Homo sapiens: one gene and its partner. The protein of the gene in region 1 interacts with the protein of each later gene in a pairwise test. Each region holds a gene or a part of one and is shown in the gene's direction. Other genes may lie near its edges.

Region 1 (9,733 bases):
AAATTCATTCACCAAACAACAAATATTTCCTGAATAAAAGGCACTGAAGATGAAACCAGAGAGAAGGGAAGGAAGGGATTCAGAAATGAATTAGACACTATTTCTAACCTTAGGGAGGAGAAATAAGGACAAAGAACTATAATGCAGGCCAATAATCCAGTGTGACAAGAGGCACAGCAATACCACATTCATGCTCATCATCACATGCAAGGAATTCTGTTTGCTACCTGCCCAGCATCTATTCCTACCTGCTGGTTTAGAAACCTTATTTTCCTCAGGGAACCACCCCATCAACTCTCAGTTCCAGTGGTTCAGGGGGTGATGACTTCAATCAGACTCCAGCTTGGGCTGGTAATCAAGCCTGGATGATGAGAGAATTAAATGATCTTCAGTACAGCAACTGGGTTCAATGGTGTATGTGTGACCCAAGACATAGGCCCGTGATTCAATTCTGGGACTTCTGTGCATGCACTAAAGTCAAGTCGGCCAGGCATGGTGGCTCACGCCTGTAATCTCAGCACTTTGGGAGGCTGAGGCAGGTGGATCACCTGAGGTCAGGAGTTCGAGACCAGCCTGACCAACATGGTGAAACCCTGTCTCTACTAAAAATACAAAAATTAGCTGGATGTGGTGGTGCACACCTGTAATCCCAGCTACTGGGGAGGCTGAGGCAGGAGAATCACTTGAACCTGGGAGGTGGAGGTTAAAGTGAGCCAAGATTGCGCCACTGAACTCCAGCTGTGGCAATAGAGTGAGACTCCATCTCAATAAATGAATAAATAAAGTCAAGTTGGCCAGGCATGGTGGATCATGGCTGTAATCCCAACTCTTTGGGAAGCTGAGGCAAGCAAATTGCCTGAGCTCAGGAGTTCCAGGCTGGTCTGGAATTTCTGGAGCGAATCACTGTTCCTGGTAGATTTTTTTTTTTTTTATTGAGCCAACAAAGTCCTTGGTTTTACTTATTCCAGATGGGTTTTCTGTTGCTCACAACTTGAAGGATCTAGAATAAATGAGGAAATAAAAAGTTCTAAATCCCCAATTATTTATTTGGCCTTGATTAAAGTTACAACTAGAGATCAAACTTTTAATAGTAGGAATGGGAGAGAATAAAAATTTCTATTGGCACAATTGCTTTGAGTATACAAAGCACTAAGCTATCCAGTAACCTTTTGTCATAAGAAGGCAAGTTGGAAAGACCCTCAATGACACCAAGAATACAAATATTATTAGCAGGTTGGGGAAATTATTTCATGATTTAAACATTGTGTATCTGATCATCATGAATGGATTTCCGCTTGCTAGAAGTTCTTCTGGTGCATCCTGATTGTTAACTAATGGTTTATGGTTCTACAACTCCTGACTTTGAGCCTATGTACTTGCTACTTGCTTTATTCATTTGTTGTGGGAAACTGAATTTGAACTCACTTATCACCCTTAGAATAGTGAAACCAGGAACTATTATGTAACTTCATTGATCCTGTCATAATTGACTCAACTGGCATAAAAGATCAGATCCTCTTAGAGTTAGGAAAAATACTTTTGTTTTTGCATATATTATGCAAGTAGAAACAATTATAAAATAGTGAGATTTATTTTTACCTTTTTCAATTGACTTCTTTGGTCTTGTCTTCCATTCAACTATATGAAGAATGCAAGACAGGTTATAATCATCCTAACTTTAGGGACAAGAAAAAGGTAAGGAGAGAGAGAGCAGGAATTCAGCGGCAAAACAGAGCAGATTGAATGCAGTGCTTTGGTAATTAACAAGAACTCACATCCTCGCCAGCCTGACCTGGCCTCTCCTCCTTGGCTCTCACCCAGGTGTTGCTCCCTGCATGTAATTGAAAGTAATGAAGCTACATGTGTCTAAACTCTCAATTAATGGTTCTGTGAATTCCAAGTCAATCTGGAAGATGTTAGTGTATTTTATTATTCCTAATGGGACTCCTCTATTAAGTAATTCAAGGTAATTTACATCTTGTATACAGTTAAGTTTCACTGCATTTCCATTGGTGGTAATAAATAACCACTGGAATATATATAATAATCATGGAAGGGCTGGTAGTATTATTCAGCATCCACACTTCACAGCATTTTTGATGTGCTTTGTTTTTCCATGCTATAAGATGTGTGTTATTGTTTGGTATTATGATTACTAAAAGCTGTTTTCATATATCAGATTATGAAAAAGATCAGTCTATTAAACTGACCACATTAAACACAATGTGTGAATAACTTATGCTAATGTGGTAGAGTTGTATTTTAGGAATGCATTTAAGGATGCAATCTCCTAGAAGAAAAAACAATCAGTAAAAAATATGAGGGTGCTTAACCTTACTCTCAGTAAATTGTGCAGTAGTCAATAGCCCCGTAAGAAACTCATGGCCATGGCCGGGCACGGTGGCTCACACCTGTAATCCCAGCACTCTGGGAGGCTGAGGTGGACAGATCACTTGAGTTTGAGAGCAGCCTGACCAACGTGGTGAAACCCTGTCTCTGCCAAACACACACACACACACACACACACACACACACACACACACACACACAAAGAAAAAAAAGAAAAAAAAGAAACTTGTGGCCATCTAATACCAGGTAAGGATTACTCATCTCTATTTCAGTTCTAAAGATGTTCTGAATCCTGAAGCAACGAGAGTTGGTTCTCTTACAACCATTTGGGGCATTTGTGACTTGGAAATGAGGCGGCAGTGCTCACAGGGCATGCTTTAAGAACTTACAGTGGCTGGTTATGCTGTAAGGAAGATAAGAAGAAAACAGGGGAGCAGGCTAACTCCAGATGCCCAGTGGGAAGACGACAGGCCCTTCTCTCACATGATCATGATTCCTTGGTGTTGTGGTTTGGTGATGAGCAGTTTAAAGATACCAAAGATAACTTTAGCTTGAAGCAGTGCTTCTCAAAGTGTGGTCTCTGTTGCATGTAGTGATTCTGGTTCATTGAGATAAATTTACTATTTTTACTCTGGTTCATTAAGATAAATTTACTATTTTTACAAAAAATTTACTATTTTTACTAAATTTTACACAAAATTTACTATTTTTACAATTTTAAAGTGTACAACTCAGTGACATTTACTAAATTTACAATTTTGTGCAACCATCTCCACTATCTCGTTCCAGAACATTTCATCACCCCACAGGAAACTCCCATGCCCATTAAGCAGTTACTTTCCAACACTCCCAACCCCCACACCTGGTGACCACCAATCTGCTTTCTGTCTCTATAGATTCTGGACATTTCATATAAATGGAATCATACAACGTGTGGCCCTTTTTGTCCGTCTTTCACTTAGCACAATGTTTTCAAGTTTCATCCCTGTTGTAACAAGTATCAATACTTCCTTTTTGACCAAATAATATTTTTTGTACCACATTTTATTTATCCATTCATCGGGTGACATGTATATTATTTGTTTCTGTCTTTTGGCTATTGTGAATAGTGCTGCTATGAATACTCATGTACAAGTTTTGGTTTGAACACTTGCTTTTAATTCTTTTGGGTAGAAAGCGTAGGCATTAATCTTTGCTCACTCAAAAGGAGATGACCAAATATCTTAAATTCTTCAATCATTCAACAAATATTTACTGAAAACCTACTCTATAGCTGCTTAGAACGCCAAGCACTGGGAATACATACTGCAGTGAATAAGACAGGCATCATCCCTGTCCTCCTTGGGAATAACACAAAATTCAATAAGTGAGTAACACACAGACTTTACAGCATTTAGGATTAGGAATTCCTTTGCTATTAAGGAAAGTAAAAGCTGGTCACAGAGCACCTGGCAAGATGCTCTAACTGGATGCTTTCGGATGAAACAAGCAAACACAACTAAGCGCAATCACATCTGTCACCTTACATCATAAGCCTCAAGTAGGGAGGTTCCCAAGTGGGTCCAGTCGGCAGCTCAACCTCATCAAGGATCTAGCCTTTCTCTATCCTGCTCTGCCATCCTCATGGCCACGCTAAGGAACAGCCACCCGAGGCATCATGTCTTCTCATGGAACAAAGACCAGGGAACAGAAGGGGGGGAGATCCCTTCTCAATCCCTTGTTAGGTGCAAGAAAAACTTTCCCAGAATACTTCTCAGATCTGTTCTGCCCGATTTGCCCCACAGCCTATTCCTAAGCCAATTACTGGCAAGGAATTGGAATCAGGTGCAATGAATAATGTATGATTAATCAAGTTTGAGGCTGGAAGGGGCCCTCTTCCCCTGGGGAATATGATGCCTGAACAAAATACAGGCTCTGGAAAAATGTAAGAGGGAAAGAACGGCTGTAGGATAGGCAGCCAAGCGTGTCTCCACCGCTGCCTATGCAAAGATTTCCTGGAGGAAGTCCAGTCCGGCGTTCTCTAAGCTCCAGGCCTCAACTGAATATCTCAAAAGAAAACAAATATCCAAACCTCAACGTGTCCCAGACTGAATTAATGATTCCCGTTAAAGTAGTGTCTTCCAGTGGTAACTAATACTATCATTCAGATGCTGGAGCCAGGAAAATAAGAGTCACCGTATCTTCTTCTCCCTCATCACCACCTCTAGCGCATCACCAAGTCTTTGAATCCATCTACTCTCTTCGCCTCCACCGCCACCATCCTAATCCCAGTCACTATCAACTCTTCCCTGGAGCTTTGCAACAATCATGTTTGGCTTCCCAGCATCCATTTGTATTTCCCTCCAAACTATTAGTTCACAGTGCAGGTAGGGTGGCCTTTTCAAACCCAAATCTGCTCATGCTCAAAACTTGCTTCCCACTGCTCTTAGAATAGAGACCACTTTGAGCTTGAATAGGCTGTGCACATCCCACCTCAAGACTGCTGCACTTGCTGTTCCTCCTCCAACCCCTTGTCACCCCTCTCCCTCGGCTTAACTGTCATTTCCCAATTAGGTCAGATCCCTTTGCTGCAGCCCGTAGAGAGCTCTGCGCCTGTCCTTCAGGGCACTTTTTCTCCATCTACAGACTCAGATCTGTGACAACACGGAGCTAGTATTTCCTACAACATAATGCCTGGCACACGGTAAGTGCGCAATATGTAGCTGTTGCACGGCTAAATGTATACATAAGCTTCAAAGCAGAGTGGCCCATAGCAAATACGGTCGCAGTCCCGGGAGAAAGCACACACAGCCGAGACCCCACCGCTTCGTCGGCGCCGCCTGGACCAGCCAGTAGCTCCGCCCCTGGGCCCCGCCCCTCCCTGCTGAGCGAACGGGGCGGGGCCCAGAGGTCGCGTGACGTGACAGCAGCCGGTCGGTGATTGGGTCTCCAGGCGCGCCGTGTCGGAAAGGGGGCGCACCCGCGCGCGCTGACTGGCTGTCTGGCGCAGCGGGGCGGACGGCGGCGGCGCCGCGGGGGCGGGCGCCGGTAGGGGCCGGACAGGGTAGGGCCCGGAGGGCGGTGGCGGCGGAGCGGGCGGCATGGGTCCTGGCCGCCGGCTTCGCTGAGACGCGCTCGCGTGGGCTGCCCTCCCGGGCCCGCAGTGGTCGCGGCGGCATGAAGGGCGCTCTGGGGAGTCCCGTGGCTGCCGCTGGCGCCGCGATGCAGGAGAGTTTCGGCTGCGTGGTGGCCAACCGCTTCCATCAGCTGCTGGACGACGAGTCGGACCCGTTCGACATCCTGCGCGAGGCCGAGCGCCGGCGCCAGCAGCAGCTGCAGCGCAAGAGGCGCGACGAGGCGGCGGCGGCGGCCGGGGCCGGTCCCCGCGGCGGCAGGAGCCCAGCCGGGGCCTCGGGCCACAGAGCCGGCGCGGGCGGCCGGAGGGAGTCGCAGAAGGAGCGCAAGAGCCTCCCGGCGCCCGTCGCTCAGCGGCCCGATAGCCCCGGGGGCGGCCTGCAGGCGCCGGGTACGCGGGGACAGCGGGGTTAGCGGACCACGGCTCGGCCCGCTGTGAGACTGGGGTCCCGGGGGCCGGTTTCAGGAGGAGGGGCCCGGGAACAGTAGGGAGAGTTGAGGGTCCTGGTGGCCGCCGAAGGTAGGAGGAGAGGGGCAGGGGTCACACCCCTTCCAGCTCTCGCCAGCCTCGTGCGGGGCTCCGGGGGAAACGCTGGCTTGGGGTGGGATAGGGCCCTCGAACCCTGGCACTGAGGCTCTACGGCAAGTTGGACGAAGTTGAGGGAGGTTGTCTGGGTGGCGTGTGGGGGCGAACGGCTGAGGTCGCTACCCCGGGGCTCCCACATCCAGACCTGGCGGGGACCTTCATCTTCCAGCCCAGCCTCTGCAAGATTGAGGTCGGAGCCACCCGAGAGCGCGGTGGGGAGGAGGAGGGCGCCTGGTCCCGGGGCTGGGGGCCTCTGTGATGCCGGAGGCCTGGGCGACCGCGGGGCGGCCTGTGACGTCGGGGCCCGGGCGGGGGTCCCCGGCGCGGTCCGGCCTGGCGCCTTCGCCCCTTCTCCGTCCGGTAGCTTCCAGGAGGCAGCCGGCATCGTATTTCAGTACTTCGTGTGGTGTTGATGGGATGTGCAACTTATAAATAGCTCAAGGCTGCTTTAAGAAAAGCGTTTTTAACCTTTCCAGCAAGAATATTCGGAGTTCCCCACTCCCTATTTAGCAAGAAAAACCGGTGCGCAGCGTGGTGTCCTGCTGCCTGTGGACGGGGAGGGTGCTTCAGAGTTCATTCTCTCACCGAACTGCGTCAGTGGCAGAGCCAGCAACACTCCACCTGTGTTTCCTGTTTTCTTGAAATGAGGCAGCGGTCCCAAGGTTTGCAGAGTGTTAGGATTAAGATGTGTAGGTTGACCATTCCTGCCGACGTTTGCCAGTGTGTTCAACTTGGCTTTATTGGTTTGTTCCTTGCTTGATAAAAATTGTGCATCGCAGCCCTGAGGAAACGTCTCAGGTTTAAGTATTAGGGCTTTGATGTGCAGCTGGGTAATGTTTACCTTTATTTGTGAAAAGCTAAATCCAGAGTCATCACTTGAGAATCAAGTCACTACAATAAAGATGTTGAAAATGATTTTTAAAAAAATGTTATTTACTATCTCACGACACTTTGGTAGGCCAGTAAATTTCTGAGCCTATCTAAACAGTGAGACTGGAGATACATTGTGCATTTTATATCCTGTTTTTTATCTTTTTCTCTTAAACTTATTTACATCAATATAATAAAGGAATTGAGGAAGGCTAAGCTTTTCTTCACCCTTTATTTTTTAACAAATGAAAATGCCGGGTGTGGTGGCTCACGCCTGTAATCCCAGCAGTTTGGGAGTCCGAGGCGGGCGGATCACGAGGTTAGGAGATCGAGACCATCCTGGCTAACACGGTGAAATCCCGTCTCTATTACAAATACAAAAAATTAGTCGGGCGTGGTGGCGGGCACCTGTAGGTCCAGCTACTCGGGAGGCTGAGGCAGGAGAATGGCGTGAACCCAGGAGGCGGAGCTTGCAGTGAGCCGAGATCGAGCCACTGTACTCCAGTCTGGGAGAAAGAGCGAGACTCCGTCACAAAAAAAAAAAAAAAAAAATTCTGTGCTTCAGAAAAACGTGAGACGAGTTAGTGCTGTTAATACATTGATTTTTAGCCTTTTTAAAATTGTCATGCATTTTTGTGTTAAGAATTTTAAGCAATTCCAAAATGTATGAGGTTAAGTGAAAATCCTCTTATTTTTCCTACTAACACTTTGCATTTATATACATAAATGCACAGAGCTATTTCTTTTCTTTCTAAACTTAAATGATATAAACTGGGTTGCAACCTGTTTCCTGCACTTGATGTTGTCATGTAGTACACTCGTAACTTTTTTTTTCTGTCAGTTGTTAGGTCTAAGTGATCTGGCTTTTGAAATCAACTAAAGGTATTTAGTTGATTTTGTAGTTAGAACGGAAATTTTATCATTCAAGTTCTTTTTCAAGTATGTGTTATTTCAGGAGCAAACAGCTCATTAATTTCCATTTATGTAGTTACTGTACTAAATTTATCTATAATGGGTGTCAAGGAGCTATTCTCTCAAGGTTTTGTAACCCTAGTTGATAAGAAGCACTGTACTTTTCTAACATTCAAAATTTTTTATCTAGTTAGAATGTTGTAAGTGAATGCTTAGTGTAGACAAAAATAAAACATGTTTGACATATCATAGAAATGTTAATCCTGAAAGAATGTGGAAGTCACAAGCTTTTCCTATGGAAAAGGGTTTTTTTTTTTTTTTTTTTTTTTTTTTGAGACAGAGTCTTTTTTTTTGAGACAGGCTGGAGTGCAGTGGCATGATCTCGGTTCACTGCAACCTCTACCTCCTGGGTTCAAGCGATTCTCCTGCCTCAGCCTCCTTAGTAGCTGGCATTACAGGCATCTGCCACCATGCCCGGCTAATTTTTTTTTTTTTTTTTTTTTTGAGACAGAGTGCAGTGGCGGGATCTTGACTCACTGCAACCTCTGCCTCCCCGGTTCAAGCGATTCTCCTGCCTCAGCCTCCTGGGTAGCTGGGACTACAGGCATGCGCCACCATGCCCAGCTAATTTTTGTATATTTTTTAGTAGAGGCATGGGTTCACTATGTTCATGTTGGCCAGGATGGTCTCGATCTCTTGACCTCATGATCTGCTTGCCTTGGCCTCCCAAAGTGCTGGGATTACAGGTGTGAGCTACTGTGCCTGGCCTAATTTTTTATATTTTTAATAGAGATGGGGTTTCACCATGTTGTCCAGGCTGGTCTTGAACTCCTGACCTCAGGTGATCCGCCCGCCTCAGCCTCCCAAAGTGCTGGGATTACAGGCGTGAGCCATGATGCCTGGCCAAAAATGTAGGTTTTTAATGTCTGACTATCTGTCTAGCAATATGTATATAAACCCTTGGGTGAGCCTTGCTCAATAAGTTCATTCTTAAAGTCATGAGAGGCCGTTTCAGTTTTGCTTTTCCTAGCCTTTCAGAATTATGTTCTTTGAAACAAAGGTCAATTTTATTTTGTGGAAAATCTTACTGTAAATTTTATTGTATTCTGTTTCTTTACCTGGGCTTGGTTTAGATGATGATGAATGCATGTGCCAGCCTTTTCTTGGCGAGGTTAGTGAAATGCAGTGCTTGCATTCTCCACTTGGAGCTGCTGATCCAGCACAGAAAAACAAGCCCAATTCATGGCAGTGTTGATCTCTTAGTACTAAATTGTGGGGAAAAAATTGGATGCTGATTATCTTTGTTTTGGGAGAGTTGGGAAGGAGAACGAGATGTTTGCCCAAAACTGATCATTATTCTAATTATCTTTGTTTTGGGGGGTTTGGGAGGGAAAATGAAATGTTTGCTTGATATTGATAATTATTCTAATAAGTAGCCAATTGTATTTAACAGTTTTCAGTTTTATACTGTTGGAAAAGGCTTTAATATGGTGTACAGTAAATGTCCTATTTTAAGTTTGATGAATTCCAAATTTGACGCAATTAAAAAATAACTTGGAGGAAGCAGAAAGGTGGGATAAGCACCTATAAGTAATTCTGTAGTTGAGTGGAGATAATAAAAGATGTTTTTAAAACTATGGGTTGGAAATAGGAAATCTGAAACTATGTTAAAATAACTCTTTTTACGCTGGGGTAAAAGTATGGAAAAGTATTGTTACTGTTGACAAATTTTCTGATGACTGTTATGTCATGATCTGTTATAATTTTCAACTTGTTAGGTAATTAACTTTCTTAGTGGCTTTTTCTGCCTTACATTTTGAATGCCTTTTCCAGTTCTGAACTCTTTTTTTTTTTTTTTTTTTTGAGACGGAGTCTCGCTCTGTTGCCCAGGCTGAAGTGCAG
Region 2 (9,176 bases), on another chromosome or scaffold:
TGGTGGCGCATGCCCGTAATCCCAGCTACTCGCGAGGCTGAGGCAGGAGAATCACTTGAACCCCGGAGGCGGAGGTTGCAGTGAGCCAAGATCACACCATTGCACTCCAGCTTTGGGCAACAAGAACAAAACTCCATCTCAAAAAAAAAAAAAAAAAAAAAGTCATATCTGAATCATTGAGACTTATGATATGAAGGTCATATAGGAGCAAGATGTCATCTAGATGAACAGCCATTCTTCACCCAGATTATCCTTAGTTTTTGTTTTCCTTGTTATTGTTATTCTGCTATTGTGTTGGTATTGCCAACTAGCAGGTTAGTAGAACCACATAGACATTATATTGAGCCAGAGGTTTAATCTGTGATTTTACATTTCAACTTAGAGTGATCTAAAAATCAGTGCCGAGATTTGACCATTAGCATTGAGGAATGTTTATAGTCCTTTACTAAGATATTAATGTAGTCAGCTGTCTGAAGTCAGTTCGGTGACCCCCAGCTTAAAAGTTAGCATTAACCCTCTGTCTGCCCGCCTCTTACTATTGCCTTTCTTTTCTCCATTTTGTTCTTTCATGACTGCTTTTCCTTTTACATTTTGTCCTTCTTAATTTAATTTAATGTTCACTGATGTGATTGCAGATTTGGAAGCAAAAAGCTCAGTATCTGCAGCACAAACAGAACAAAGCAGAAGCCACAACTGTGAAAAGGAAAGCATCCAGCTCAGAAGGTTCCATGAAAGTCAAAGGTAGTGACCACATCCCGCCCCTGCTTTTCTCTAAAGCATGTGAATTTTGCTTCCTTGCTAAGAAACTGGGAAAAAAGCTTGCAGTATTAGAAGTGGACCTTGATTCCCAGGTATTATTACCTGGGAATGTTACAAGCTACCAAAAAGAGATGTTCAAATTTAGAAAATGCAAATCAGAAGTCAGCAAACTTTTTCTTTAAAGGTCCAGAGAGTAGACCAGGCGCAGTGGCTCATGCCTGTAATCCTAGCACTTTGGGAGGCCAAGGTGGGCGGATCACCTGAGGTCAGGAGTTCGACACCAGCCTAACCAACATGGAGAAACCCCGTCTCTACTGAAAATACAAAATTAGCCGGGCGTGGTGGCGCATACCTGTAATCCCAGCTACCAGAGAGGCTGAGGCAGGAGAATTGCTTGAACCCGGGAGGTGGAGGTTGCGGTGAGCCGAGATCGTGCCATGGCACTCCAGCCTGGGCAACAAGAGCAAAACTCCATCTCAAAAAAAAAAAGGTCCAGAGAGTAAATATTATAGGCCTTGTGTGCCGTATGCATTCTCGCATTCTCTGTCACATATTCTTTGTTTTTCTATAGCCCTTTAAGAATGTAAAACTATTCCTAACTCACAGGCCATAAAAAACAAGAGACCATAGACTGAATTTAGCCCACAGGCCACAGTTTTGCTAATGCCTGGTATAATTCATAAAAAGGGAAAATCAGGAAGAACAACTTTGTGTTGTTCAAGGCTGTAGGCAAGTTTTACCTGTCTGCCTCATTGCTCTGTTCTCAGCCTCTTCTGTAGGAGTACTGTCACCCCAGAAGAAGTCCCCACCCACCACCATGCTGTTACCAGCCTCACCAGCCAAAGCCCCTGAGACAGAGCCCATTGATGTTGCTGCTCATCTTCAGCTGTTGGGAGAGTCCCTAAGCCTCATTGGACACCGTCTGCAGGAAACTGAGGTGAATACAACTATCAGCAGCATGACTACAGTTTCCCATATAGTTTCCCATATAATTTTGATTCATTCACTCATTTTACATACATGTATTGAGCATCTACTTTATGCTAAATTATGCCAGGTTCTCAGGATGGCGTAACATAGAAGATATAATGATAATAACAGAAATATCTATAGAGATATTCAGTCTACCTGTTAGCTCTCAAAGTTTCACTAATGATATCCTATTGAAACAATGGCACAAAAAGAAATTGGAGTACCCTGTAACTTATTTTTATTTTTTTAAAATGCAGTGGAGGCTGGGCGCAGTGGCTCACGCCTGTAATGCTAATTTGGGAGGCCCACCTGGGAGAATCGCTTAAGGCCAAGAGTTCGAGACTAGCCTGGTCAACACAGTGAGACTCCATCTCAAAAAATACATATATTCAAAAAATTTAAAAGAAATAAAAATGGGGCCGGGCGTGGTGGCTTATGCCTGTAATCCCAGCACTTTGGGAGGCTGAGGCAGGCGGATCACGAGGTCAGGAGTTCAAGACCAGCCTGGCCAATATGGTGAAACCCTGTCTCTACTAAAAATACAAAAATTAGCCAGGTGTGGTGGCATGCACCTGTGGTCCCAGCTACTCGGGAGGCTGAGGCAAGAGAATCACTTGAACCTGGGAGGCAGAGGTTGCAGTGAGTCAAGATTGCGCTACTGTACTCCAGCCTGGGCGATAGAGCAAGACTCCATCACAAAAAAGAAAGAAAGAAAGAAAGAAAAACGCAGTGGTGGCTGGGCACGGTGGCCCATGTCTGTAATCCCAGCAATTTGGGAGACCAAGGCAGGAGGATCGCTTGAGGCCAGGAGTTGGAGAGCAGCCTGGGCAACATAGCGAGACCCCATTTCTACAAAAAATTAAAAAATTAGCCAGGCATGGTGGTGCACACCTGTAGTCCCAGCTACTCGGAAGGCTGAGGCAGATGGATTGCTTGAGCCCAGGAGCTCAAAGGCTGCAGTAAGCTATGATTGCTGCACTGCCCTCCAGCCTGGGTGACAGAGCAAGACCCTATCTTTTTTAAAAAAACAAAAACAAAAAGGCAAGAAAAAGGATGAGTACAAATTCCATAGCAGTTTTGATTACTTCTGTCTCCTTCTAAGAGACTTTGAATTTTTCTCTGCATTTCCAGCAAAGTCTTGAATATTCAATTGTATAGGAGATTAAGAGTTCCTCTGTTTTGAAAATAGGTAACAAATGGAGAAGTTAAGGTTCCCAGCTCTCCATTACTCTGCACTTAAATTATACAGTGCTATATGCCCTGGGGAGATTTTTGTCCTTTTAAGCTTCAATTTCAAAAATCACTTAACCTGCACAGCTGTCGTGTTTCATTTCTATTACCATATTCAATTTCTAACAATATTGTCCCCTTAGCTAACTCATTAGTATAGTAGTTCCGCTTTCCACCAAGTTCTAGTAAGACATTTCAGCAAAGAAGTCAGTCTAAGCTACTAAAGCCATTTTTAAGCTAAGAAATTAGTGTAGGAATGTAAAACTAATCACTTGCTTCAATGTGGAAATTGAATTATTCAACAAATAAAATGCCAAAGGCCACAAGAGCTGAAGCTATATCTAAATTCTTTGGCTAGTTTCTAAAAATTTTAGCAGTAGTCAAAAGAACTTCAGCACCTTCATATAGGCTCGATATCTGAATGGATATAGATATTTCCAGAAGAAGTATTCTATGACCTTACTTATTTTTCAGATTTAATCATTCTTACGTTTCGTAAGAAGTTAGAAGTAAAAACAGTTTGTTTTAAGCGTATTCTGAATTTTCCCAGATATTTCCATTTAGTTTAGTAAGTACAAAGTTCACCCTTTTAAAGTGCAGAATTTAGTGATTTTTAATATATTCACAGAATTGTGAATCACTACTATTTCATTCCAAAACATATTGTTACCCCTAAAAGAAACCCTGTACCAGCCAGGCGCGGTGGCTCACGCCTGTAATCCCAGCACTTTGGGAGGCCGAGGCAGGCAGATCATGAGGTCAGGAGATCGAGACCATCCTGGCAAACGTGGTGAAACCCCATCTCTACTAAAAATACAAAAAATTAGCTGGGCGTGGTGGCGGGCGCCTGTGAGAGGCTGAGGCAGGAGAATGGCGTGAACCCAGGAGGCGGAGCTTGCAGTGAGCCGAGATTGCGCCACTGCACTCCAGCCTGGGCGACGGAGCGAGACTCCGCCTCAAAAAAAAAAAAAAAAAAAAAAAGAAACCCTGTACCCATTGGCAGTTATTCCCCATTCTCCCTCTAATCCACTTTTGGCCCGAATTTAATCATTTGCATAGATCTCTGCAATTTTATAATTTCCACATACCACTTAATACTTTTACTTACTTTATAATTTTATTTAAATAAACTTGTCTGTGCTTTTACAGTGACATTCATGACATCTCAAGGGTTATATTCTATTTTTTTAATGTACATCGTAATGGACATATAATTATCAAAATAATATGTTCAGTAGTAAATTAATGTTCATCATTTTAGCAGTAAAACTGGAACATACAATGCATAAGTTAGAAAATTAAGGCTAGAGGCCGAGCACTGTTGCTTGTTCCTGTAATCCCAGGACTCTGGGAGCCAAAGTGGGAGGATCACCTGAGGCTAGCAGTTCGAGACCAGCCTGGCCAACATGGCAAAACCCCATCTCTACTAAAAATACAAAAATTAGCCAGTTGTGGTGGTGCACACCTGTAATCCTAGCTACTTGTGGGGCTAAGGCAGGAGAATCGCTTGAACCGGGAGGTGGAGGTTGCAGTGAGCCGAGATCACACCACTGCACTCCATCCAGCCTGGGCAACAGAGTGAGACCCTGTCTCAAAAAAAATAAAAATAAAAATTGTGCGTGTGTGTGGCGTGTGGTGTGTGTGTATCTTAAGAAAGTTAAAGCTAGAACCCAAATTGCAGAGGGACTTCATAGACATTCTGAAGTGTGTATACTTCACTGTTGGGGAACTACAGGGGTTTTTACAGTGGAAAGGGATGAGATCAGAGCTCTCATTTACTTTTCTCTGAGAATATCTTTTATTTTAGATTGGAAGTGAAAAGAGACCAGAATTGGGGAGAAGTTAAAACAATAATCCTAGTCTAGATGTGACAAAGATAAATTAGCTATAAATAAATATAGGGCAAAGGAAATGGAACAATATTACTAATTACTGACATTTTTGGGGTTTTAGCTATTATCTTCCCTGTATACTAATGTTTTATTGAAGGCTCACTCACCCAGCTTTGGTTCAGAGTGCTTAATATGAATTATATCATTTAATTCACACTGCAGCTTTGTGAGGCAGAATTTGTTCCCCCCATTTTACAGAAGAATAAACAGACTTAAAGAGGTGAAGTCACTTTCTCTAGAGTTTAGCCCCTAAGTGGTAAAATAGAGACTTGAATTTGGAATGTGACCTCAAGGTCCGGGTTCTTAACCTCTTACTGTACTGCTGCCCTCAGAAAGTATAGGGGGGAGATGTTGACAAGGAGGATGAGGGAAAGGAAGAGTCAGTGATGGCTAGGCCTTGAGACTGGGCAGTTATGTGAATGGTGGTGACTTTGGCAGAGAAATGGATGCTCAAAGGAGGGCTAGATTTGCATGGGAAGGTTATTCTTCCTTACAGGAAGTTGAGATGGAGAAATATCCAAAAGGAGAGACCCAAAAGACAGCCAGAAATGCAGTTTTGAAGATCAAGATGTTGGTAGTAATATTCATAATTACTGATATTTTTTGAGTACTTAACCATGTATTAAGCACCATCCCAAGTATATTATATCTATTATCTCAATCCCATCTGCTGCAGATGCTGTTAGTATCTTACAGGCACAGCATAGTAAGCAACTTGCCTAGGTACAAAACAGTGAGTAGTGGAGCCAGGATCTGGACCCGGGCAGTCTTGAATCCGGAGCTCATTTTCTTAAGGACTGTGCTGTGTTGCTTCCCAATATGACATATTCTCACACTGCTTCTAGTTAAAGCAGATTATACAAGAACTCGGCAGCAGCAACAGTCTTTCTTATCTCTTTGAATCACAAATAGACAATATGAATTACATAAAATGTTAAAATTTGAACCAAATTCACTTTGAGAGTGAACAACTCAACCTAGAAAAATTGTATAATCAGCTATCAAAAGCTACATACATGCAGGGTTGTAGGATTCTCATAGTAATCACATCTGAGCTATATTTGTCGAGTTTATAACAGATATACTTTGCATACATAATCACAAATCTTACCAACAGCTCTCCAGAGTAGGTAAAGCATTTTTTACTGTTCCTGTTAAGGAGACAGAAGTTAAGGATGTGAACTCCCCAAGGTCACTCAGAAGGTAAGAAGATGGGCTAGGATTACGGAAAGGGAACATGGGAATGTGCTGTAAAAGTTTTCTTTCTAAACAACTTACAGAGTTATCAAAGTAAACTTTCCATTTCTGCTGTAAAGTTTCAAATTATAAGAGTAGAACTGCCTAGGATTTAAAGTACTGTGTGAGGAAGTCAGCCGGAACACAGCATCAGGAGTGTGACTCAAGCAACAACCTCCTCTCCTTTTCAGGGTATGGTGGCTGTGTCTGGCAGTTTGTCAGTGCTTCTGGATTCCATTATCTGTGCCCTTGGCCCCTTGGCATGTCTCACCACACAACTACCTGAATTGAATGGCTGTCCCAAACAGGTCTTGGTGAGTTTTCCCTGGATTTTTAGAGTCAGATCCATTGGGCGTCAGAGATGCCCTGCCTTAATGAGCACTGTCAGACACACATAAGGCTTTGTGACACACAGTGCTTCCTTCATCTGTTGGCCCATGGAACATGATGCTATATTATCAAATGCATGCTGTACTTTCACTGAAACTAGAAAACAAGCCATTTACCAAAACAGTACTTAAGAAAGCAGCATTCTAGCCCTTGAGGTACTACAATTCCTGTGTTTCCTGTTTGCTATTCTGCACCCAAAGACAGTACAGGAATTGTTTCCCTCTTTTTTACGAGGATTAATGGGAGAAGTCAGCAGAAAAGTTCCTAGCATAACAAACAGCAGGATGCCGTCTTCATTCTCACCTGTTTTTCTAACTCCATTTGATTTTTCTTATCTCTCTCCTTGAACAAAGAAACATCTCTCAGGAAACCAAGGTACAGTACTCTTCAGTTGAACATTTTTCTTTGTTTTGCAGTCAAACACATTAGACAACATTGCTTACATCATGCCGGGACTGTGACAGCAAAGAATCCTGGGACAGAAACCTTATCCTACACCATTGCTGGTTTGTGTATATATGACTGTTGCAGATTCCTTCAGTGGCCTCTGGCTGTAGGTTTTAAATTTTTATATCTATACATACATATATACATATATATATAATGTACAATATATACATAGACTGTAACTACTTTGCTTTTAATAATTTTATGAAATGGCAAAGGTTTAGCCAAGAGGAAATTTTGGCATGAATACAGGCTTGGGATTCTTTTTTCTCCTGTGGTGGATAAATCTGCCTTAAAAATCAATGTAACTTGGGGGCTGGGGGCTTGTTCTGGGTGCCAAGCGCATCTCTTTATGGACAGCTAAAATGTGATTATTTTCCAAGCTCAGTTGGACCTCCAGACCCATCACTGACCATTTGCCTTACCTGTCTTAGTCTGAAATGTAATAGGAAAGATAACGGGAAGATGCCAGTTGACTGAAAATTCAAAGCCTTTCAATTTGAAGTGACCTAGGTGGGAGGTGATAAAATTTGTTCCCTTTATAGTTATGGAAGTGGCTTAGGTGAATTGAGTAGAGGGTTCATTCCAATTCCTACTGTATAGGTGTCTGTGTCTCAAAATTTATTGTAATCATTGGTACCATTGGTGGCCTCAACAGAGGCCAAGGAGTTCTGTGAGCCCTGGCAGCAAAAAACACCTTGGGGGGTGAAGCTGTCAATGCCACCAGTTGGACCTCCATACATTCTGAGCTAACCCAGAATCTTTAGTCGGCAGAATTAAGTGCTGGTGTCTTTCACTGGCAGCATGAAGTTAGCCACCAAGTCCTCACAAGCCGTGCTGCTTAGTTGCTCGGTGGTTATGGATAAACTTTGCCCAGCATGATTTTTGGGTTCATCTTATCAGTTCCCCTGGTGGGCAGATACACAGTGTTCTGCATTCCACATGTAAGTGAATTGCAAAAACAAAACAAAACTCACTCTCTTGTAGGTTTATTTATGTGTGTGTGAATGTGTATTTTAATTATGTGTATTTAACTCTTTAAAATCTCTTAGATTTTAATTTATCCTGTAAATTTCTGTATATATAATTTAATAACAGAAGCCTCCACCAGCAACAGCATGTGGAAGATACAGATTTGTCATTTCTCCCTTCCGCCCTCCCTTCTTTCCTTCCTTCCTTCCCTGTTTCCTTCCCTCTTTCCTTCCTTCCTCCTGGTCTGTTCCAAAAACTCTGAATCATCTACATTTTAAGGTATTTTACCTCAAAAATGAATCATTGTGTTAGGATTCTAATTCTTTATAAAGAACTTCATGGGCTTCAATAATGTCTAGAAAGTAAAATAAAGAGGAATGTTACCATCCCCAGCTGCCCTTATTTCCAGAGAACCAGACGTTTGTTTCCCAGTTGGAAAGAAGACAGTTGAGCACTTCAGGATGGTTTTTAAATTTGGTATGAGATTCTCTGCCAACACCAAGCTCTGAGTTAACTGTGCTTTCTTCTCCTGGCCCTGACAGAGCACTACAGCATCAAAGTAAATCTTTGGGGACAGTGTAGCCCATCTGCATCCTATTTAATTTCTTCCCTTCTCCCCACCAGTGTTGTCACAGGGCTATGTTGCTTAAAGGTAGTCTGGCTGCTGAATCCCTTTCTCAGCTCAGAGCAGTTTTAAGATTTAATTGGGAATACAGAGAAACAGGATTGTTTGAGAACCAAAATCAAGAGGAACAGAAATCTTAACTTGATTTCATGTGTTAGAACATTGTACCATGCCTCTTCTGTATCTGTGGAAGTTTCCTGTTTGACACAGGGTATCTAGGAGGGGCGGGGAAGACATGGATAGTATAGGAAGACATTAATCCTAGCATTGTCATTTATATACATTAATGAAATCCTGATGAGGACCTGCTTTTTGTTTGTTTTCCTTTGAAACCCAGCCCTATTGTATTTGTATTTAAAATTTGTACACATTTGTATAATAATCTGTACCTTGTGGTATTTGGTACTATTAGAGGAAAAACTTTGGATTCAGACCTTCTTGCAGTTTTTATATCATTGTTTTATTTTGTTTTTTAAATAAATTCTAGTGGTTTGATCCAAATCCCATTACAGTTGTATAAAGAAATAAAATTTTGTACTTATATTATTAAAAATCACATTTTTAATATTTGTAGTCCAGTCTCAGCTGTCTTTTCCCTAATCATGATCATCATAGTTGCTATGAAATTATAAAACCTGTTTTTCACTCTATTC

Evidence for each region.
Region 2: the proteins of HABP4 (region 1) and HMGXB4 interact in a two-hybrid assay, tested with the Homo sapiens proteins (one study listed by BioGRID).

What each region holds. Positions count from the first base shown.
Region 1 is NC_000009.12:96,444,775-96,454,507, forward strand, and holds the start of HABP4 (intracellular hyaluronan-binding protein 4), read left to right. Parts: upstream 1-5,394; 5' UTR 5,395-5,505; coding exon 5,506-5,854; intron 5,855-6,414; exon of another isoform or gene 6,415-6,692; coding exon of another isoform or gene 6,693-6,711; intron 6,712-9,733. UniProt on the Homo sapiens protein: Ribosome-binding protein that promotes ribosome hibernation, a process during which ribosomes are stabilized in an inactive state and preserved from proteasomal degradation.
Region 2 is NC_000022.11:35,286,712-35,295,887, forward strand, and holds the end of HMGXB4 (HMG domain-containing protein 4), read left to right. Parts: intron 1-635; coding exon 636-741; intron 742-1,526; coding exon 1,527-1,696; intron 1,697-6,280; coding exon 6,281-6,403; intron 6,404-6,895; coding exon 6,896-6,940; 3' UTR 6,941-9,096; downstream 9,097-9,176. UniProt on the Homo sapiens protein: Negatively regulates Wnt/beta-catenin signaling during development.